Linked DNA regions of Homo sapiens. The protein of the gene in region 1 binds, or shares a complex with, the protein of each later gene. Each region holds a gene or a part of one and is shown on either strand. Other genes may lie near its edges.

Region 1 (4,561 bases):
AGTTTAAGCAGTTGCAGAGGGAGCTCTCTCAAGTGCTGACCCAGCGCCAGATCTACATCCAGCCTGATAATTAAGCCGATCCAGGTACCCTGCCTGAGAGCCGCGAGACCCTCCCCACTAAAACAGGACTCACCAACCCGCCGAGACCCTGCCGGTCCGGCTGCTGCTCCGCGGCCATTTAAACCACCACTAACCCCCACGTGTGCTCCCGGTCGGTGCACAGCCACATTCCCGTGTAGCCTCGGCCCCATGTAACACGGCACCTATCACGTGTGTGTGCTTTCCACTCTGGGTGGAGGCTGGGTGTGGGGAAGACGGCTGATTTTTTGGCTTTTGCTTCTGAAGAAGCCCAGGCCAAGGGACGGATGCTGCCTCTCCAGCAGCAGCCACTTGTGTGCACCGGCCTGACTGTCCCCAGGGCAGGGATCTGCCTGCCGTCCACCCCCCCATGCTTCAGAGGAGCCTCTGATGCTGGTGCAGGGATCCCAGAAGCCACATAAGCCTCCCCGCTGCTCAGCGGCACATTGCCTGTCCAGGGCTAGCTGGCTTGGAAGGGGTGACCTCACTCTCTGATCTCTGAGTCTCTGGGGTTGGAGGGCAGAGTCAGGGCTGGACTCCACCCTGGCTGGCCCAGATGCTCTGCTGGAGCTGCCTGGACGCCCAGTGCCGACTCGGCCACAACCAGCATAACCTTCCGCCCCTAACGAGCTGCAGCTGTTCCTTTAAACAGGTTTCGCTAATGGAAAGGAAAATAGTCTTGCTTGTTGGTAATGGCCAAGAACCATGACTTGAGCTTGTGACAGATCCAGATGTAGGGAAGGAGGCAGCATCCCTGGAGAGTAGGAGGGAAACTTGTTTGTAAAAAGAAGGCATTTGGAACCCTGCCAACTGGGGCTGCAGAGCCCAGGTCCAGGGGCTGCGCACTGAAGGCCCACCCCAGAAGGGGTGCAGCAGACTTTCCAAGGTGGAGGTGGGGTCAGGCACTTAGAAAACCAGGTGGAGCTGCTTTTCCGAGGCCGTGGGACTTAAGTGCACCAGTCTGGTCTGTGTGTGCCAACTTAAGGCCCACGACTCGGGTCAGCCTCACAGTGTGGCCATCAGGCATTTCCATCATGGCATTGAGAAAAAACTCTTTTTAAGATACACCGTGATGGTGCAGTTCCCTGGCCGCCCACTGGGGGCGTCCTGGCGTAGAAACCCTGGCAGCCAGGTCTGCTCAAGATGACTCCTCCCTCCCACAGAGTCGAGCACTGTCTCCAAGCGCTGATTCGAGGTTGCTTGGCCGTGACCTTCCCAAGCATTGTCCCTTAAATAAGCCCCCTGCTCCTTCCGCCTTCCACCATTTCACTTCTAACTTCCTGTGTCTAACATGATTCTAGCTCTGGAACTTTCTCCTTCGTGTGATCCAGCCAAGACCTGGCGGGCTTGGCTCTTCCTTCCCAGAAGAGCCAGTGACCACCCAGGCTAGAGGTCCTGTGCGCTGCTGCTTTGCCCGCCGCATCTCCCGCTGGCCATGTTGACCTCCCGCTGTGAGCTTGGCAAGAAGCCCCTGGGGAATCGGCTGAGATTTGGAGCCTGGGGGCCGTGGGGGCTGATGCCTTTGGCCGCCGCAGAGCCAGGGACAGTCCTGGGAAGATACTCAGAAACGTGTATTTCCCCAGCATGAACCAAATGTCTGCGTTTCTCCTGGGAGTTTTTTCAGTTGTATGCAGCTTGCTTCCAGGTCTTGTCTTATGGCACCTGCTGAGTATTTTGAGGGCTCTTCCTGTGACTTGTAGGGATTCGGTAGCCAGAACTCAGTCTGGGTGCTGTTGCTTCTCCTGGGCCCTGCTTCACTTCCATTTGCCCATTTTTGCTTCTGGGGATTGATTTTTCTGATTCTTCCTTCCCATGGCTGGTGTGAATCAAACGTGAGAGTCCGGCTGAGTGCACTCTCCGTAGCACTCTTCTTGAGCAGCCCTCTACCCACTCTTTCCACTGCTTCTAAACTGTTATAAAACCTACATTTAGGAAGTCTTTGCCTAACCAATATGTTGGGTAAATTTGACAAAATGATTAAAGAATTGCTAGGGGGGCATTCCTCTGAGCCTCAGTTTCCTCATCTGTAAATTGGGTTGATAGCTTTTTTCTTTTTTAAGCCTTGACTTCGCTTTTTGTTGTTGTCGTTGTAGAGATGGGGTCTCACTATGTTGCCCAGGCTGGTCTTGAACTCCTGGCCTTAAATGATCCTCCTGCCTTGGCCTCCCAAAGTGCTGGGATTACAGGCTTGAGCCACCACATCCGGCCGGGTTGATAGTTGAGACTTCCCCAGGATGCCCGTGAAAATTAAATGAGATAATATATGTGAAAGGCGTTTTGTAAACTGTGAAATCTCCATAAGCCTTCATTGTTTCTGGCTTTGTTGATGAGCGTCCCCACACATACGTGAATGCGGTCGCCCTGAACGTTTCCCCACAAATCCAGAATTTGACAGCAGGGATCCCAGGGGCACTTGGCTGTCCTGTGCCGCCCTTTGCAATCCGGGCTGAGGGGTTTTCTGGGCCAAGTTAACAGCGGATGGTGCCTCACAGCAGAGGCCTGAAAGCACCTGCTGCGTGGGCCATAAACACAGTGTGCTCAGACACGCAGAGACACTGGTTCTTACCCACTCCCAAGGGTGGGATAACGCTGCACCTTGCACTTGTGGGATGAGGAATGAGGCTCTTCTGCTGGGCAGGGCCTGGGCAAGGGAGAAGCTTTTATAGAGGAACCCGCATGGCCCCGGAGTCCTCCCCTCTTAGCCCCTGGCCTGAGTCCCCAGCCAGCAACCCAGGGTAGCTGTTCTGAAGCAGAGGGGCTTTGTTCCATTGTGTTTGGAAGCCCAGAAGCCACCTTGTGGCTTAGGGTGACATAGGGACCTACACACAGAGGAGTGAACTTAGGGTTCTAGGGACTATGGCCGGGTCACCGGTGGCCAGGGGCAGAGATGAGCACCTGTCCATGTAAGCCATATGCCACCCCCACAGGGCCTGGCAAGGTGCAGAGGGTGCAGGTCTCGGCCATGTACCCCTTTGCCCCTTTCTGAGAGGGGCAGATGCCCAGCCCAGTGACCCAGAGCCTCACCCCAGGAAGCGGGTCCATGCAGCAAATCAGCCAGGCACTGGCATGGTGGCCCCCAGGCCTCCACCGCCTCACCAGTCCCTGTTCAATCTGCTGATAACGCCTTTCCTCCCTTGCAGGTCTGTGCAGACTTTTGCAGACAAATCAAAACAAGAAGCTCTGAAGAATGACCTGGTGGAGGCTTTGAAGAGAAAGCAGCAATGCTAAACCTCTGTTTCATGCTAACCAGACACGCCGTGCACTCGTTAGATTCCTTTCTTAGAAAACTCGTTTTCTGCTCCCTTCCCTCGTCCCTTCCCTCCCCGACAGGTCACATAACAGCTGCATCATTGACCGCACAGCGCCATCTCTCCCTGAGAATAAAGCCGATAGCCACCCTCCTCCGGCTCCGAGCCTGCTTCTGCCACACCTCGCTCTCAGTTCTCTCCACATTTCCATAGAGACCGTGTGGTTTTTGTTCACCCGGGCCCCCCGTCTTCCTCCCTGTCCCCCCATTTATAGGCATAAAATCCACTGTCTGCCAGCCTCCCTTCCCTCCCACCTTTTTGGTACATTGGTGTAAAAAATGTAAAACAAAAAAATTTTATGAACTAACTGTGGTGTGTGAAAGAGAGAAGAAAAACTGGAAATCTTATTCCGTGTGTGTTTGGGAGTTGCTTGGGGTTGGGGGTCGTGGGGACAGGGGACAGCTCTGGGAGCAGAGGTGGCCCTCGGTGCCGTCCTGCGCAGACTCTCCCGTCCCACGGAGGCCGCGGGGTGGGGGCTGGGGGGGGTGCCGCCGACCGTTCCGCTCTTCCGGCCAGGTGCTTTTCTGTCAATTTCTATGGAATGCAAAAGGAGGTTTTTGTTTTATTTTGTTTTTTTGTAAAGCTTAAGAAAAAAATCTACATCTTATACTTGAGCCTCCATACTTAAAAAAAGAAAAGAAAAGAAATCAATAAAAAGAAACTGGGGCGCAGTTAGCGCTGGCCTTCTGTGTTCCTTCTCGCCGGCCTCGCTTTCCGAGCGCGTGTGGCCGTGGCCGTGCGCTGGCTCCAAGCTGGGACGCGTGTGGGCCCCGCTCACGGCAGCAAGGAAGTGTCCCGTCCCCAGCCCCGCCGCCCTGAAAACACCAGGTATGTGATGAGGTGCAGAGTCCCTGTCCCTTTCCGCCCTCTGCCGTTGGAGGGCAGAAGCACCAGCAAACACTGTTCTGGCGCCGCAGCACGCACCTCCCGCCGCCTTCCCACTGTGCCTAGTACAAATGTGAGGCAGCCGAGGTTCAGTTGCAGTAACTCAGCCAAGGCTGCACAGAGCCACAGAGTCTGCCTTCTACCCTCCAAACTGCCCCAGGGAAGATCTGAAGCAGATCTCAAAGTCCCTGCCGAGACCATCCCCCCATCTGTCCGTGGCCAATCAGCGGGCTCCACAACCTGGCCAGCCCATGTGTTTGAGGTCCCTGGGTCTGATGCAACATCTTTTT
Region 2 (6,522 bases), on another chromosome or scaffold:
TCCCACTTTTCTATTTTTAGACAAGTTTTTGTTACCTGTCTTTGTTTCAATCCCTTTGGAATCATATCTAAGAAATTCTTGCCAAGCCCAATGTCAAAAAGCTTTTTTCCTATTTTCTTCTATGAGTTTCATAGTTTCAGGTCTCAAGTTTAAATCTTTAATGGATTTTGAGTTGATTTTTGCATATGGGGTAAGGTTAGAGTCCAATTTCATTTTTTACATGCGAATATCCAGTTTTCCCAATGCCATTTATTGGAGAGACTATCCTTTCCCCATTATGTATTTTAGTACCTTTGTAGAAGATCAGTTGACTATATATGAAGGGGTTTATTTCTGGGCTCTCTATTCTGTTCCATTAGTCTACATATTTGTTTTTATGCCCCTACCATACTGCCTCAATTACTGAAGTATTTTAAATACATTTGGAAACCAAAAATTGTGATGCCTCCACCTTTATATTTCTTTTTTAAGATTGGTTTTGGTTATTCAGGGTCTTTTTTGATTCCAATATGAATTTTAGGATTGTTTCTTCTGTTTCTGTGAAAACAAAACAAAAATGCCATTGGGATTTTAGTAGGGATTACATTGAATCTATAGATCACCTTGGGTAGTATGGATATATTAACATGGGATGTGTTTCTGTTTATTTGTAACTTTTAAAGTTTATTTCATCAGTGGTTTACAGTTTTGGTGTGCCAGTTTTTCACTTCCTTGGTTAAATTTATTCCTAAGCATTATATATTTTTTAATGCTAGTGTAAATGAAAATGTTTTCTTGATTTCTTTCTGGATAGTACATAGTTAATGAATAGAAATGCAACACATTTTTACATAGTAATTTTGTATCTTGCAACTTTACTGAATTTAATAGTTCTAGTAGTTGTTTTTGTTGTTGTTGTTGTTGTTGTTGTTTTGAGGACTCTCGCTCTGTTGCCCAGGCTGAAGTGCAGTGGCGCAATCTCAGCTCACTGCAACCTCTGCCTCCCAGGTTCAAGCAATTCTCGTGCCTCAGCCTCCTGAGTAGCTGGAATTACAGGCGTGCACTACCACGTCTGGCTAATTTTTGTGTTTTTAGTAGAGACGAGGTTTCAACACATTGGCCAGGCTGGCCTCGAACTCCTGACCTCAGGTGATGCACCTGCCTCAGCCTCCCAAAGTGCTGTGATTACAGGCATGAGCCACCACACCCGGCCTTGTGGTAGTTTGTTAACAAAATCTTCAGGAGTTTCTACATGTAAGATTGTGCCATCAGTGAATAGAGATAATTTTGCTTCTGCCTTTTTAATTTAATTGCCTTTTATTTTCATTTCTTGACTAATTGCTTTGGCTAGGATTTCCAGTACCATCTTGAACAGAAGTGGTGAGAGTGGGCATCCTTGCCTTTTCCCAGATCTTAGAAAAAAATCTTTTCAGTTTATTTTATATGATATTAGCTGTAAGCTTTTCATATATGGACTTTAATGTGTTAAGTTCCTTTTATACTTAATTTACTGAGAGTTATCATGAAAGGGAGTTAAATTTTGTCACATGCTTTTTCTATATTTTTGAGATAATCATGTGATTTTTATCTCCATTCTGTTAATGTGGTGTATCACATTGATTGATTTCTGTATGTTGAGCCATCCTTGCATGCCAGGGACACATATTATTTGGTCATGGAATATGATCCTTTTAAAGTGCTATAAATTTGATTTGCTATTATTTTGTTGGGGAATTTTGCATCTATGTTCATCAGGAATATTGGCCTAAAGTTTTGTTTTCTTGTGGTGCCTTTGTCCAGCTTTGGTATCCAGATGATGTTGACCTTATAAAATAAAACTGGAAGTGTTCCCTCTTCTATTTTTTAGAAGCATTTCAGAAGGATTGGTATTAATTCTTCTTTAAATCTTTGGTAGAATTCACCTGTGAAGTCATTTGGTCCTGGGCTTTTCTTCGTTGGGCAGTTTTTGATTACTGATTAAGTCTCCAAACAGGGTCTCACTATGTTACCCAGGCTGGTCTCAAACTCCTAGCCCCAAGTGATCCTCCCACCTTGGCCTCTCAAAGCATTGGGATTACAGGTACAAATCACTGCACACAGCCTCTCAGTCTCCTTTTTGTTATTGGTCTGTTTAACCTTTCTAGTTCTTCTTGGTTCAGTCTTGATGGGTTATATGGTTCTTGAAATTTCCCTTTTTTTTCTAGATTGTCCAATTTTATGGTGTATGATTGCTCTATGTGTTTTTCATTTTTGTGAGATCTGTTGTAATGTCTCCACTTTCATTTCTGATTTTATTTGACTCCTCTCTCTTTTTTCTTACTCTAAGTATTTGTCAATTTTATTTAACTTTTCAAAAAAACAAGTCTTAGTTTCCTCAATTTCTTCTAATTTTTTTCTTTTCTATTTTAGTTATTTCTGTGCTAATCTGTATTATTTCCTCCCTTCTGCTAACTTTGGGCTTATTCTCCACTCTTTTTATAAATCACTAACATCTAATACAGTTACCATTATCAGTCTGATATAATTAGACATCCAATCCTAGGTTTAATGTTAGCATTTCTGTATGCTCAGGAAATTATTCTAAACTGATATCCTGGTATTATTTCAGATTTTCTCAACAACTAATTTTACCTTCTACTGAAATGCTCTCCATCTTGATTGTAAATATAGTTAGTATAATTAATTGCTTTTCTTCTTAAGAGACTAACCTTTATATGACAATTACTGACATTGGATTAAGTTCCACCTAGGATAGGATAGGCAGGGGGTGGATGTCATCTTACCTTAAAAATCTGTTTCACATGAATATAACTGCACCGAATATCTAATTTTTCAAGTAACCTCTGAGTTTTTTCTAGGTTAATTTTTCCACCTCTGAAGTCATCCTGAATCTTTGACAAAAACCATGTAGAAGCACAAAAAAGTTAAGGAAATTCTCACAGAAAGTCATTGAATATTTAAAATTCCTAAAGAAACATTTGATTTACTGTATTATTTTTATTTTTAAAGAATATGTTTAAAGTAAATTATAGTATAATTGTATGATAAATATTTTTTAAAAAACAAAATTAAGTAGTTACTATGCTATGGTAAAGGTATGAAAGGGCATAGCACAGTAAAAATACAAAAAAAAGAATTAAAGTTAAAATTTGAGAATTGAAGTCATTACTTAGAACATACATTAAAACATTATAACAATCTATTGCCTGAAGGCATGAAGTTGGAAGGCAGCTAGACTTCAAGATCGCCTCTCACCTGACCTCTCTGTTTTAGTTCTCTCTTCCAGAAAGGTGAGCAAATTAACCCTGAATCTTAAGGAAAGTGGAAGCATTAGATGAATTCCTAATATGCCACCGAACACAGTTTCTGCTACTTAGTGTTCAATAAATAGTAACCATGACTGATAAAGTTATTATTACTACATTAGTCCAATGCCCAGCTACACACACACTCAAGACAGTACCATCAAAAAGCATCAGAAATACCATGGTGAGTGTATATTTGGTATGAAAAACGAAAAAAATTTTTAAAAGCTTACTTATCATAGATAAACTACAAAAACTAGGACACTTCCATTTGAAAAACTAAGATCGAAATGAGATAATGACAATTATCACTAAAATTATAAAAGGTATAGGTAAAAATTGTGCAAAACTACTAAGTTTCAGATTGTTAGAACGAATTAATGAGATCTCCTTAAATTTAATAGTTATGACTTAATCCAGCAAAGCTCATGTTCTTGTAAGAAAAAGATACCAGAATGCAGGGAAAGTTAGAAAAGCTCAGAACAAACAGGGAAAAGCAGTTCAACTTAAATGAAGAGGACTTAAATTCAGAACTCCTCGAAAAGAATAACAGCATCAAGTAAAGAGGATAAGTAGGAGAAAGAAGAAGAGGAGCAGAAAGAAGCTCTCAATGGATATCTCATTTCCATAGTTTCATGACCTGTAGAGCCGTTTCTCCTCACTTAGAAGTCTTTCCCCAGTAGGTGCTGTCATGGGTTCCAAATACAATTAACTCTGCCCCTTTGCAGAAAATAATTTCTTGATACTCATCAGCTGTTACCACTTTTCTAGGGAGAAAGCAGAGAACACACAGTGGTTTTTTTTGCCTTCGTTCTTTGAAGCTAGCTCACACTTAACCATAGAAACAGTATGCAAGATGTGGTACCTGCACTACCCTGCCCTTGAAACTGTTTGGCTTCTTACGTTCTGACCACCTCCAAACCCACAATATTTGAAAACACAGCTTTCCCTGATGTCTGGCATTTTTCCATGAACTGCCATTGTATCTCCTTTTATTTTTTACTACTTTGTTTAAACCCCTCAAACCTTTCATCATAATATGCTTCCAGTGGGTTTGGGCAGCTACTCTGAGAGCCTGAGTATAAATCAACACCATTGTGATTCCTGAAGTTGCAAAGTGCTGTCACTCTTGAAACTTTGGGCTGCTTCTCTAGATCGTTGACAACATATAATGCACACAGAGACACACCACTTTCGAAGAAGACTGTTCAGGAGGCTAAGTTCTTAAAATCTTCAAAAGAGGTATAGCTGGTTGGCTGGGCACCACACTGTCAGGTGACTGTCATTTTTTCCTTTTGGTCTGAATTCCCATTGTGATATCATCAGAGGTTCCACACTTCACAAGGAAAGCTTCTTATGACCTCATCAGGAGGCTCAGACCTTGCCAGACTGCCTGCTTTCATGGATAGACATAAAAACCTTCAGCTTGAATGTTAACACCTTGATGGGAAAGGTGGCTCATGGAATGTTTTCTTATCCTTTGAACACTCCTCATTTCAGAAGCTTTGCTTCTGTTGCAACCAAACATGACACTTAGCGTGCTGAGCAGGAAGGACAAGGAAAGAGTAATTCGCAGACTGTTATTACAGGCCCCTCCAGGGGAATTTGTAAATGCCTTTGATGATCTCTGTCTGCTTATCCGTGATGAAAAACTTATGCACCACCAAGGTGAGTGTGCAGGCCACCAACACTGCCAAAAATATTCTGTACCACTCTGCATCGATGGAAATCCAGTACTCTTGTCTCACCACAATGTAATGGGCGACTACCGATTTTTTGACCATCAAAGCAAACTTTCTTTCAAATATGACCTGCTTCAAAATCAGCTGAAAGACATCCAAAGTCATGGTATCATTCAGAATGAGGCAGAATACCTGAGAGTTGTTCTTCTGTGCGCCTTAAAACTGTATGTGAATGACCACTATCCAAAAGGAAATTGCAACATGCTGAGAAAAACTGTCAAAAGTAAGGAGTACTTGATAGCTTGCATTGAAGATCACAACTATGAAACAGGAGAGTGCTGGAACGGACTTTGGAAATCTAAATGGATTTTCCAAGTTAACCCATTTCTAACCCAAGTAACGGGAAGAATATTTGTGCAAGCTCACTTCTTCAGGTGTGTCAACCTTCATATTGAAATATCCAAGGACCTGAAAGAAAGCTTGGAAATAGTTAACCAAGCTCAACTGGCTCTAAGTTTTGCAAGGCTTGTGGAAGAGCAAGAGAACAAATTTCAAGCTGCAGTCTTGGAAGAATTACAGGAGTTATCCAATGAAGCCCTGAGAAAAATTCTACGAAGGGATCTTCCAGTGACCCGCACTCTTATTGACTGGCACAGGATACTCTCTGACTTGAATCTGGTGATGTATCCTAAATTAGGATATGTCATTTATTCAAGAAGTGTGTTGTGCAACTGGATAATATAAAGAATTGCTCCTGGTAACTATCTTGATTTGACTTGTTTGTGTTTCTTGGGAATGGTTATTTTCCTAAAATTGAGCAATCTGTAGAGATGTCTCTCACTTAGCCAATGCAAATTTAAATGGGAAAAGTGTAGCAAGTAATTTTACTTGGGGAATATTTATGAACAAGGCAAGAAAGTGTAAAGTAACTGTGTTTCATGGTGGTGACCATCATAAAGACCAAGACATTTGTTAGAAACTAAAATAGTTTTATAGAATCTGGGATTCCAGAAATAGTATAGAGGTGGCCAGGGTTAAGGCTGTGTGTGGGTGTGTACGTGTGTGTGTGTGTGTGTGTGTGTGTGTGTGAGAGAGAGAGAGAGAGAGAGAGAGAGACTTTTGACTGTTTCGAACTGAAAAGGTATACAAATGAATATCACTCCACAAATGATATTTTACATAACTCAATTCAGTCCTAGACCATCCACGAGATGGGGAATTTCAATAAAAGACATTAGGTTTGGATTTTCCACAAAACCAACAGATATCAAAAATCTAGCTCAGATGAAGGACTATTAGTAATTTTGGCTCCTCTTCCACTCTACTTTCTTCCCCTCAAGAATTGGGGTTACTCAAAATCCCTGGCTTGTCTGATAACTAACATGGTCTTCCAAGCCAACCAGAGAAGCCTGACTTCCCAAACTTTTACAGCCAGGCTTTTGTGAAGTCGTCACTGTAAACACTTAGAAGTACTTATTACATAACATGGCTTGTGCTAAATATTTTGCATAACATTTTTCATCACTAATCTGGTACTAGTATTATCTCCGTTGTAC

Evidence for each region.
Region 2: CAPZB (region 1) and CAPZA3 share a complex: the UniProt entries of both Homo sapiens proteins name them as parts of the WASH complex.

The regions. Positions count from the first base shown.
Region 1 is NC_000001.11:19,338,275-19,342,835, reverse strand, and holds the end of CAPZB (F-actin-capping protein subunit beta), read left to right. Parts: coding exon of another isoform or gene 1-74; exon of another isoform or gene 75-84; intron 85-3,218; coding exon 3,219-3,306; 3' UTR 3,307-4,061; downstream 4,062-4,561. UniProt on the Homo sapiens protein: F-actin-capping proteins bind in a Ca(2+)-independent manner to the fast growing ends of actin filaments (barbed end) thereby blocking the exchange of subunits at these ends.
Region 2 is NC_000012.12:18,733,459-18,739,980, forward strand, and holds CAPZA3 (F-actin-capping protein subunit alpha-3), read left to right. Parts: upstream 1-4,660; 5' UTR 4,661-4,810; coding exon 4,811-5,710; 3' UTR 5,711-5,730; downstream 5,731-6,522. Other genes in the region: PLCZ1 (1-phosphatidylinositol 4,5-bisphosphate phosphodiesterase zeta-1), read right to left, coding at 2,763-2,886, 3,903-3,913. UniProt on the Homo sapiens protein: F-actin-capping proteins bind in a Ca(2+)-independent manner to the fast growing ends of actin filaments (barbed end) thereby blocking the exchange of subunits at these ends.